3 linked regions of the Homo sapiens genome follow. The protein of the gene in region 3 interacts with the protein of the main gene of each other region in a pairwise test. Each region holds a gene or a part of one and is shown on either strand. Other genes may lie near its edges. The genes, in order: PRKRA, MRPS6 and CEP126.

Region 1 (3,421 bases), on a different chromosome or scaffold from region 3:
AAAGGTAAGGTTAAAATCTGTTCATTAGACTTATTTCCTAACCTTTTAATCACTCATCACTTTGGAACATTCTTGCAACTGAACTGAATAAGCTGGGAAGGTTTTTTGGGTAATTCTACTAACGCTTTTTTTTTTTTTTTTTTTTTTTTTTTTTGAGACAGGGTCTCACTCTGTCACCCAGGCTGGAGTGCAGTGCTGTGATCCTAGCTCACTGCAGCTTTGATCTTCTGGGCCCAAGCAATCCTCCCACCTCAGCCTCCTGAGTAGCTGGGACTCAAAGTGTGCCACCACACCTGATTTTCTTTTTGGTAGAGATGGGGACTCACTATGTTGCCCAGGCTGGTCTCAAACTTTTGGCCTCAAGGGATCCTCCCACCTTGGCCTCCGAAAGAGTTGGGATTATAGGCATGAGCCAACATGCATGGTCAAATGCTTTTTAAACTAGTAATTCACCTGTGTATGGTTATGTCAAAGAAAAATACAAGGTTGCATACGCTTAGAGAAAGTAAGGAAGTAACCCATTACATGTATGTTTGTAAATTTTACTTAGGCCATCATTTTTTATTTTCACCTTTGAATTTCAAAGTAAATTAGAGATATGTAAATAACAGAATTATCAACATTAAAATCTTATTCACAATGGCTAACAAGAACAGGATGACAGTCAAGTCAGTAGCTTTTTAATAAAATGAGCAGAATCCCATCGTAACAGTTCTTTGTTACATGAATTCAAATACACAGCAGACCAATCATGTTCCCTGAAATTTAACAATCAATCATACTTAATAAAGGCCTGTTAGTGCTGTCCCTCAAGACTCTAATTCTAAAGGGCTTCCTTTGAATTCCCTTTATAAAGCTTTGTGCAAAGAAGAGCTTAAGCACCAGTAAGAAAGACTGTCGCTAGCATTTTTATTTCATCATCAACAACAAACATGCAGTTTCTTTCTCTGATGTGCATGGCACTGTAAAATGGGTGCTACACTCTCTCTTGTGGTACAAAGTTTATAAATACAGTATACTGATACAAAGTTGAAGCCATTAAAAAGAGCTTAATAACAACTATGAGGAGATAATTAAATCTGGAGTGTTGATGGAATCTATGAAGAGATTTAGAAACAAGACATAAACACTACGGTAAAAGTTTTACTTGGGAAGGGGCCAGAGGGGAACTTTTTATGTGCTACTGAAAGATTTTTTAAGTTGCTCCAGATTTACTTTCTTTCTGCTATTATCTTTAAATACTGCAAAGCATTGTGAGCTGCATCACTTTGTGCATTGCCACAGGAGATACCGGAGCCATGACAGACTGTGATGGGGCTGGTGGACAGTTCAGCAAGACATTGATATTGTCCATTGGCGCTCAGTTCATCTGTAATGACACATTCAAGGATGACGATTAATGTCCAATATGTATAAAGTGGATCCCTTTGTAAAAACAATACAATTCTTATTATTGTCTTTCTTTTTAAGCCTCCATGGTATACTACACCACTCGCAATCTTTGTTTTGCTTGTACAAACAAAAAACCACAACTGCTCAGCTGTAGCAGTTTTCAAACACATTACACTTCATAATGATCTGACAGTGTTAAAGACATACAGATATCTAGGCTGCACTCTAGCTCACTCAATCAGAAATATACAGTTGGGGGTGGCTGATTCCTACACTTAAAAAAATAACAGCTCCCAAGGCAATTCTAATATAGTTAGTTGAACACTATTTGGAAATTACTGAACCACACAGTAACTTTCTCAAAAGGGAAAGAACCATTTGCTAGAGGACTGGAGAGATTGTATTTTCCACTAGGAAGTCATTTTCAGGAGGCATTTGAACCAGGAATAACTTCGGTCAAGGCAAAACCTCCCTTGTGTCTTCTATTAAAAAAAAATGTTTAATTGATACATAATAATTGTATGTATTTATGCTGTTGTCCATTCATGTTCCTAGGTTTTAAGTCTGTGCAGAGTCTAGTTCTTTATTTATACTGTAAATGGGTCATGGTATTTTAAAAACAATACCTGACCCAGGAAACAAACGTTCTTCCCATCAACTGATGAGCCACTCTTACTAAAGATGGCTGAAATGAGGGCAAAGAGGAAGAAATAGAAACGTGTGCGGTATGATTTATTTGAAGTAGGCATAATAAAAATGTTATTTTTGATACTCTATTTAGTGGAAAATATCCAGATACAATGGGATTATTTAATGAGTAAAGAGGCTTTCTAGTTCTAGTATCTAGGTTCTTTTCTCCTGACCCTCCAGCTTCTGCTTGAGGCTCATCCATGTTGTAGAATGTATCAGAACTTCGTTTCTTTTTACAGCTGAATAATATTTCATTGGAAGGACAGTCCACAATTTGTTTATCCACTTATTCACTGATGGATGTTTTGGGCTGTTTCTACCTTTTGGCTTTTGTGAATGGTGCTGCTATGAATATACAGATACCTGTGTGTATAGGCATTTGTTTAAATACCAGTTTTTTATTTATACTCCTAGGAGTGGAGTTGCTGGGTCATATGGCAATTCATTTGAGGAACTGAGAAGCTTATTCCATGGAGGCTGAACTGTTTTATATTCCCACCAGCAACGTGTAAGGTTCCAGTTTATCTACATCATCACCAACACTTGCTATTTTCCATTTCATTAATGATAGCCATCCTAGTGGATTTGAAGTGGTACCTTATTATCGTGGTTTTGATTGCATTCTCTATTGACTAATGATATCGAGCATCTTTTCATGTATTTTTTGGTCATTTGGTCATTTTTCTTTTTTAATTTTAAAATTTTGAGACAGGCTCTCACTATGTTGCCCAGGTGGTCTCAAACTCCTGGGTTCCAGCGATGCTCATGCCTCAGTCTCCCAAAGGGGTGGGATTACAGGTGTGAGCCACTTTGCCCAGCCCATTTGTATATCTCCTTTGGAGAATATCTAGGTTCTTTTGAAGGTAGCTGCATATAAACTAGCCAAATTAACAGACTGTGGTTTTTAGATGGCTTTCCATATCTACAAGAACTATTTAGTTCTCAAAACTGGGAAGAAATGTTTCAGAGGCATCATTAATTCATAATCTAAAAATTTATCTTGGGTTTCCTTTTTTCCCCCAGATTCTGTATCCTCCATAGTCCTATTCATGACATGGGTCGTTCATCTCTGTATTCTAAACCCTCAATGAACTGTAGACAGTAATAAATATTTATTGGATGAATGGTCTCTCATCAGCCACCTTTTCTTTTTTTTTTTTTGAGACAGAGTCTCACTCTGTCACTCAGGCTGGAGTGCAGTGGCGCGATCTCGGTTCACTGCAACCTCTGCCTCCCGGGTTCAAGTGATTCTCCCACCTGAGCCTCCCGAGTAGCTGGGATTACAGGTGCACGCCACCTTGTCTGGCTAATTTTTGTATTTTTAGTAGAGACAGGGTTT
Region 2 (3,659 bases), on a different chromosome or scaffold from region 3:
AAAGCCATCACTTAATGCTTTCTACTATTTCCTTGTTATAAGTGCACCTATTTAGGTGTTTTAAAGTATCTCAAGGACATATATTTGCACTACAAGCGTATTTACAGGTATTAGCTATCCTCCCCTCAGTAGTATGTCAGGAGACCAGCTAAGAAACTGCAAGAGTCCAAGGAAGAAACAAACAACATGAGCAGTTCAACTAGGGCAGAGAAGACTATATGGCATTGAGACTGCAGGAAAAGAAAGAACTGCATTTGTTCAGCCCCAGATGACAGAAGACAGAGAAGCGATAAACAGAAATAAGCAATAACAGAGGCAACTTTGGGGATAGGCAACACATTAAGTTCTTAACCACACTGAGTTTGCAGTGCCAAGGGGATACCCAGGAGGCCATAACCAGCACAGAAGAGAACAGAAAATGCCAGAGTTGTCAGCTTGTTAAAAAAGGTGGCAAATCATCCACATGAAGGTTAATGGAATTGTACATAAAGAGAAGAGGGCCTGTAATCCCAGCACTTTGGGAGACCAAAGCGGGCAGATCACGAGGTCAGATTGAGACCATCCTGGCCAACATGGTGAAACCCCATCTCTACTAAAAAAAAAAAAAAAAAAAAAAAAAAAAAAATTAGCTGGGTCTGGTGGCGCATGCCTGTAATCCCAGCTACTTGGGAGGCTGAGACATGAGAATCGCTTGAACCCAGGAGGCAGAGGTTGCAGTGAGCCGAGATCGTGCCACTGCACTCCAGCCTAGGCAACACAGCAAGACTCTGTCTCAAAAAAACAGAAAGAAGAAGAAGGGAGAAATCAAGGGAGTAACATCAGAAAACAGCAGCATAAGAAGCCAAGAAAAATGATGCACCTAGAAAATTGTGTCTATATACTCTAAATCAGGGGCTGGCACATTTCTTCTGTAAAGGACTAGATAATAAATATAAACAAAAGAACAGGGTCATGTTCCAATGTAACTTTACTTATGGACTCTGAAATGTGAAAGTTTTATGAAATTCAAGTGCCATAAAGTATTGCTGTTTTTTTCCCCACCTATTCAACTGTAAAATCTTTTCCTACTTCACAAGCCACAAAAATATAGGTGACAGGTCAGATCTGGCCCGGAAGCCACAGGCTGCCAACTCTTGCTCTAATTTCAAAGCAACAAAAAGGATAAGAGGCTGAATTAACTGTCACTTTCCAAACCCAAGGGTAGTTCTTCCTTTAGACAAATTGATAACTTACCAGACATTCATTTGACTAATTCCTTAAGTAAGGATTCCCCTAAGAGGTAACTACATGTGTTGATAACACGTCTTAAAAATATTGCCTTCCACTAAAAACAGATAAACTCATGAGTATATTGGAAATTCTAACACAAAGCTAAGAACATTAAATAGGAAAAGTCTGATAATCAAATTGCAACAACTTTTTATAACATGAGTAATCACACAGTATTTTATCATTTGTTCTCTACCCTTCCTTCCACCTTCATGTTAAACCCCATTATGGTATTCCAGGTTTCTTTTAGATGAGTTAAACATGTAGTAGTACAAACACAGCAAAGGCACTAGATGAAAAATATTACTTCAGAATTTTCCCGTCATTGCTTTTGAACTCTTAATTTTTTGAAACTGATTTTATAATCTAAAAGGTTAGAAGATTCAATAGTCTGCATATAATACTAGATATAACCTAGATTTTTAAAATCTAGAAACATCAGTATTGAATGTGTGAGTCATGAATTAAGAAAAAAAATTAGTGCAAAATGTCAACTTCTGACAAGCAGTCTTCATACATACAAACCATATCTGGTGAGGAAGGACTCCTTACCCCCAAGCCATTCCTTGTACCTTAGCTGTAGCTCAGGGGCAGGAACAGGACTCCTTCCTTCTTCAATAGCTTGCTGCGGCAATAAGCTGTAACCCAAGAAAATTTAATACCAAATGAAAGTATAACATTGTTCACAGGGTCAAGTCTTCCATTACTAGGTAACTATTTTAAGTTGCCTGGTTTCAAGCAGATAAAACACAAAGAGAGATTATTAAAGATACAAGGCTAAGCTGTTTAGGGAGGGCCCATGGGAAGAAAAAAAAGACCACTTGACAGCTAGATGTTTCCGTTTGAACTGATGTCTCCCACCAACACACAGCAGAAACTTCACTATTTCCTAGTTATCAAATGCTTGCCAAGCAAACTACAAGGACCTAGGGTTGACCTGACTCATACTTCAGTTTATTAGCACCCTCCATCTCCAAAGGGTATCTAAAATACAGGCACTTCATAGGCATTACTTTCAGAACATCCTAACTTGAATAGAACTCTAGAACAAATACAAAACTTTTGCCAGGTGTTCTAATCAAAAAAGGCTTGCATTTAGAGAAAAACTCTTCATCACTCTACCAGAAAACCAACTGTTTTCTACATTTTAGGAACTGATTATACTTTTCTATATTCAAATTAAACCAAGTCAGAACTCAAACTCAGATTACACAAAACTCCTTACCCTACCAAAGTACTATTTCAATGAGTTATCTAAATGTAAAATATAATCTGCGTTGAGTATTAAACATAAAAATTACTGTTTGTTTTAATAAGAACTTAAGATTTCCAAAATAGCTATCTTCTTTATTCCTATTAGAAAAACATATGAAGATATATATATATAAATGCTATCTTATTGTACATGCAATGGAATCATTTAGCAAGTGAATTAGTTATTAAGCCATTAACCTTTAATTCTTCATGTAAAAATTCCTGAACGCCAATGAGAAGATTTCAGGAAAAGTATTATCCCAGGGCTTTCATAATCTATGCCAACTGTGAACACCTTCTGGGAAAAGGGCACGAGACGTAATTAGCGTTCCTAAAGTAACCACAAAATACTTATGTATTGCACAGATTTCTTTCCTCAGATTTCTTCTTCCTGTATACCCAAGGCATAAAAAGTGTCTACAAAGTTTCATTTTTTTCCTAAGCTCCTCTACATTATACAGTATGCGGCTTTACCATTCATGTATTGGCACTTCAGTCTTTTACCTAACTGAAATACCAACCTTTAAAATCTAATTATCAAGTGAAACCAAAGGGCTTCAACCATTTTCCCACTCACAAGAGAGCTCACTCACCAAACACATGACCCCTTCTCCTCATCTACCTCAAAGTTCTCATTGCAGGGGGGGCAGGGTGGAGGTGGATATAGACCTCACCATCTCACAGGCAATCCATTTCTTTTTCCATTGTCAGAGGTCTTCCTCACACTGAAATGAGGCTACCTGGGACTGCAGCCTTGGTCTCTCCTTTGCGGCTATGTCCTTTCACATTACAGCCTTTGAATACTGTGTTTTCCAGAAGTGAATAAAACTCTCTTGATGCTATCTGATATGGGTGTAACAGGACTTTTAAAATCTTTTTATTCCAGAGACTCTTCTATAAATATGAACTAAGACTGGTCTAAACAACTGGTTTTTCAAATTGCTTGTCACCTTTAAAGGCCTAGTTTCACAACATCCATTACTTTACCGTCATATTTCAGAATTTAACCACACTTTTACCTACTTTTCACGCTAAAACAGAAAATAGAAATAACTTTTTTTATATACACACTTTTTTAAAAATCAAGCTATATGGTACTTGAAAATAAATTTCTTCTTAGAAACACTAGTTAACTA
Region 3 (3,659 bases):
CCATCGCTGGAAATGTTTCAAATTTGATGAAAATTATAAATCCACAGACTCAAGAAGCCCAACAAACTCCAAGAAGGATAAGTGTATGCACACACACATACCACAGAAAGGCACCTAAAAATCAGATTAAAGCCAGAGGGAAAAAAGATATGTTACATGCAGGGCAATAAAGATAAGACGGACCGCTAAATGTAACTTATAAGCAAAACTTGAAATTGATCATAATGTTTCATTATTTAGTGGTGGGAAAAAATCTGAAGAAAAAAAAAGTATTGTTTATGAAATCAGAAGTTGCCAAACTTCTTCTGAGGTGATTTGGGAGATGAAGCAATTACAGACCTATGCAAATGGAAATCTTAGAGCCATGGATGTCATACTTATATCTAGAAGGATCTTCTAACGCAAATTTCTGTGTCTCACTAGATGTAACCTCAAAGGATGCCTTCCAGGCCTGATTTCATCATCATTATCAGTTAAAACAACTTATTTCCAAGAACAGGCATTGAAGTAGCTATGCTTTGTTTTGTTCCCTGTTTGGGTTGAGTGATTATCACTTTAAGAAGTATGCCAAAGGATGTGATAAATAGGGACTAAATGCTAAAAATATAAAACTCTCATGAATAATTTTTAAAACTTATTCCACAATACTAAATCAATAAGAACTAACTATATAAATTAAAATATTTTTATTCTGTAATTTATTTACTTTATTTCTTAGTTTACTTACTGGGATAGAAAAAGAAAGTACTTTTGTCTAATACCATAGTATGTAAATTTTTAAAATTTACATATTTTAGATAAATCTAAAATGTATGATAAATCTTAAGGGATATCAATTTTCTTTCCATTCAGCATTTTGACTAGATATACAATTTAATGTCTTCTTAAAATTTATTTCTATATATGTGATGTAGATTAATGCATGCTAGGTATGTGTGAGAAAACAGAAATATTTTTAAACATTTACCATACATTGAAGTAATTTTGAAATATTATTAAAGACTGACAAATTTCATGTAAATTTCAGTGAAATAGTGATGTAAATGTCTATGGAATTTATGGAAATTACTACTATGCTAAACCTCCAAAAGGAGTCATTAAAGTCAATAGTTTTTGAGCCTAAACCCATATGAAAATTACCTGGGGAATTTAAATAATACCAGTATATGGACCCCATCCAAGTATTAAATCAGCAGGACCCAGGTATAGATATTTTACACAGTTCTTTATGTGATTTTAACATGTAGCCAGAGTTAACAGCCTTACTACAGTCCACAAAATTAAGTTTTATAAAAAGATGTAGCCCCTACTAACAGGAAACTCACATTAGGATCACAGAGCTTTTAGGAGCCTCATTCAAGTCCAGTGAATGTTTTAGGAAAAAAATACAATTTATAAATAATTATTTTTCAGAATCTCACTTTCTATTACTAAGCCTTCAAGAAACTTCATACTCTAAATGGAATAGCAATAACAAAAATTTTTTTTAAGTTCTAACTGTGGCTAGAATAAGCAGGTATTACTTTAGGAGTTGAAATCAAAGCAAGCATACTATACTATAAGTCTTTGTTACCTCCCAATTTTTTACCTTGAGGATTGCTGCAGGGATAAGAATTATTTATATACCTATGATGTTTATAGTCATACTACTCTATATGCAAGGAGAATTGGGCTCAGTAACAATGGTATGTTGAATCGTTAATCTTGGCATTTAAAAGTTTATAAGCTATAAAACAATGTTCTTTTTTTTTCCAGAAATTTTGTGATGAAGTTAATCAGATAACCAATTCTGAAACCCTCTCAAGTATAGACAGTCTTGAGGCTACAGAGCATGAAGAAATATATTTAACACTTAATAAGGAGCATTCCACATCCATCCAGCGGAATACCATTTCCCTCAAACCAGCAAATATGCAATCAACTAATCTCAGCTGCTTTGATGAAGATAAACTGGCATTCTCTAAAACTCAACATATAAATAATTGGCTTACAAATTTAGATGCTTCAAATACTCAGAATGTCACAGCTTTCTCAGATATTTTAAGTAAATCTAATGTTCTGCCTTCATGGGAATATTTTAATAGTAAAGAACAAAATCCATCTCCTTTGAATGGAACAGTGGAAAGAGCCACAAATACTGCTAATAATTCAGTACCCTTTGTATCTAGCCCACCCATGTTTGTACTAGATAAAAAATGTGAAAAGACCTCTGAAACTAGCACTATGAGGACAACTGACTCCACTTCTGGAGCATTCAAAAGAGAGAGACCATTAGTTACTGAGAGCCCAACATTTAAATTTAGCAAATCCCAAAGCACTTCAGATTCTCTAACCCAGGAAGTGGCTACATTTCCAGACCAAGAGAAATATTCTGAATTAAATCAAGAAAATGGAACTACTTCAATTCCTACTTCATGTGTACCAGTGGCAACGCCTTTAGTTTTGCCATCTAATATACAGTCAGCTAGACCTTCAGCAAAGAACAGTATACACATAAAAGAAATTGATGCAGTGCAGTGTTCTGATAAGTTAGATGAATTGAAAGATGGTAAAGAAGAAGAGATAAAATATTTTAATTGCAATAAGGAAGAGTTGCCTTTATTTTCAGACAGTTTTCAAGATGCCTATATACCTCACAATCCTGATTCAAAAGATGAAAAACAAAAATTAGCTGAAACATCATCCTTGTCTAATGTAACTTCTAATTATGACTTTGTTGGCCAGCATAAGAAAATGAAATACAACATCCATGAGAGAAATGGTGTGAGATTTCTTAAAAGTATTTTAAAGAAAGAATCTAAATATGAACATGGTTATCTTAAGGCATTAATTATAAATCAGAGCTTTAAGTTTGGAAATCAAAAAGCAGCAGCTATCAGAGATAGTATTGAATTAACAAAGGAAAAAGGTGCAGAAATTCCAAAGACCATTAAAAAACTGAGGTGGTTTGATGAAACTAGCAATATAGAAAACAATGCTGAAAACAGTCATTCACTGAAGAATAAAACAGGAACAACTCAACAGCATTCTCAACAATTCCACATTCAAAGTGGTGCTGGAAGCAACATAATTAGTGTTTCTACTTGTGCTGTAAATTCTGCTGATACAAAGAAGTCCAGGGAGGATTCTATCTCTGAAAATGTTACGACTTTAGGAGGATCTGGAGCAGACCATATGCCTTTGAACTGTTTTATACCTTCAGGTTATAACTTTGCTAAACATGCCTGGCCAGCCTCAAAAAAAGAAGAAAGTAAAATCCCTGTACATGATGATTCTAAAACTAAGCAAGGTAAGCCACAAAGAGGTAGAGCAAAAATAATTAGAAAACCAGGATCTGCAAAAGTCCAATCAGGCTTTATATGTACAAACAGAAAAGGCGCTGTCATTCAACCACAGTCTGCAAGCAAAGTCAACATATTTACACAAGCTCAGGGAAAATTAATTATACCTTGTCCTCCTCCTCAATCTACATCAAATATTAGAAGTGGTAAAAATATACAAGTGTCTCAGTGTCAACCAGTAACTCCTGAAAATCCTCAAAACATTATTACACATAACTCTTTTAATTCAAAACATGTGCTTCCAACAGAACACAGTTTGAATCAGTGGAATCAGGAAAGTAGTTCTCCACTCTCAAATGCTTGTTCTGACCTAGTCAC

Evidence for each region.
Region 1: the proteins of CEP126 (region 3) and PRKRA interact in a two-hybrid assay, tested with the Homo sapiens proteins (one large-scale study listed by BioGRID and IntAct).
Region 2: the proteins of CEP126 (region 3) and MRPS6 interact in a two-hybrid assay, tested with the Homo sapiens proteins (one large-scale study listed by BioGRID and IntAct).

What each region holds. Positions count from the first base shown.
Region 1 is NC_000002.12:178,430,886-178,434,306, forward strand, and holds the end of PRKRA (interferon-inducible double-stranded RNA-dependent protein kinase activator A), read right to left. Parts: intron 3,207-3,421; exon of another isoform or gene 2,497-3,206; intron 1,370-2,496; coding exon 1,212-1,369; 3' UTR 529-1,211; downstream 1-528. UniProt on the Homo sapiens protein: Activates EIF2AK2/PKR in the absence of double-stranded RNA (dsRNA), leading to phosphorylation of EIF2S1/EFI2-alpha and inhibition of translation and induction of apoptosis.
Region 2 is NC_000021.9:34,076,569-34,080,227, reverse strand, and holds part of MRPS6 (small ribosomal subunit protein bS6m), read right to left. Parts: intron 1-3,659.
Region 3 is NC_000011.10:101,959,986-101,963,644, forward strand, and holds part of CEP126 (centrosomal protein of 126 kDa), read left to right. Parts: intron 1-1,755; coding exon 1,756-3,659. UniProt on the Homo sapiens protein: Participates in cytokinesis. Necessary for microtubules and mitotic spindle organization. Involved in primary cilium formation.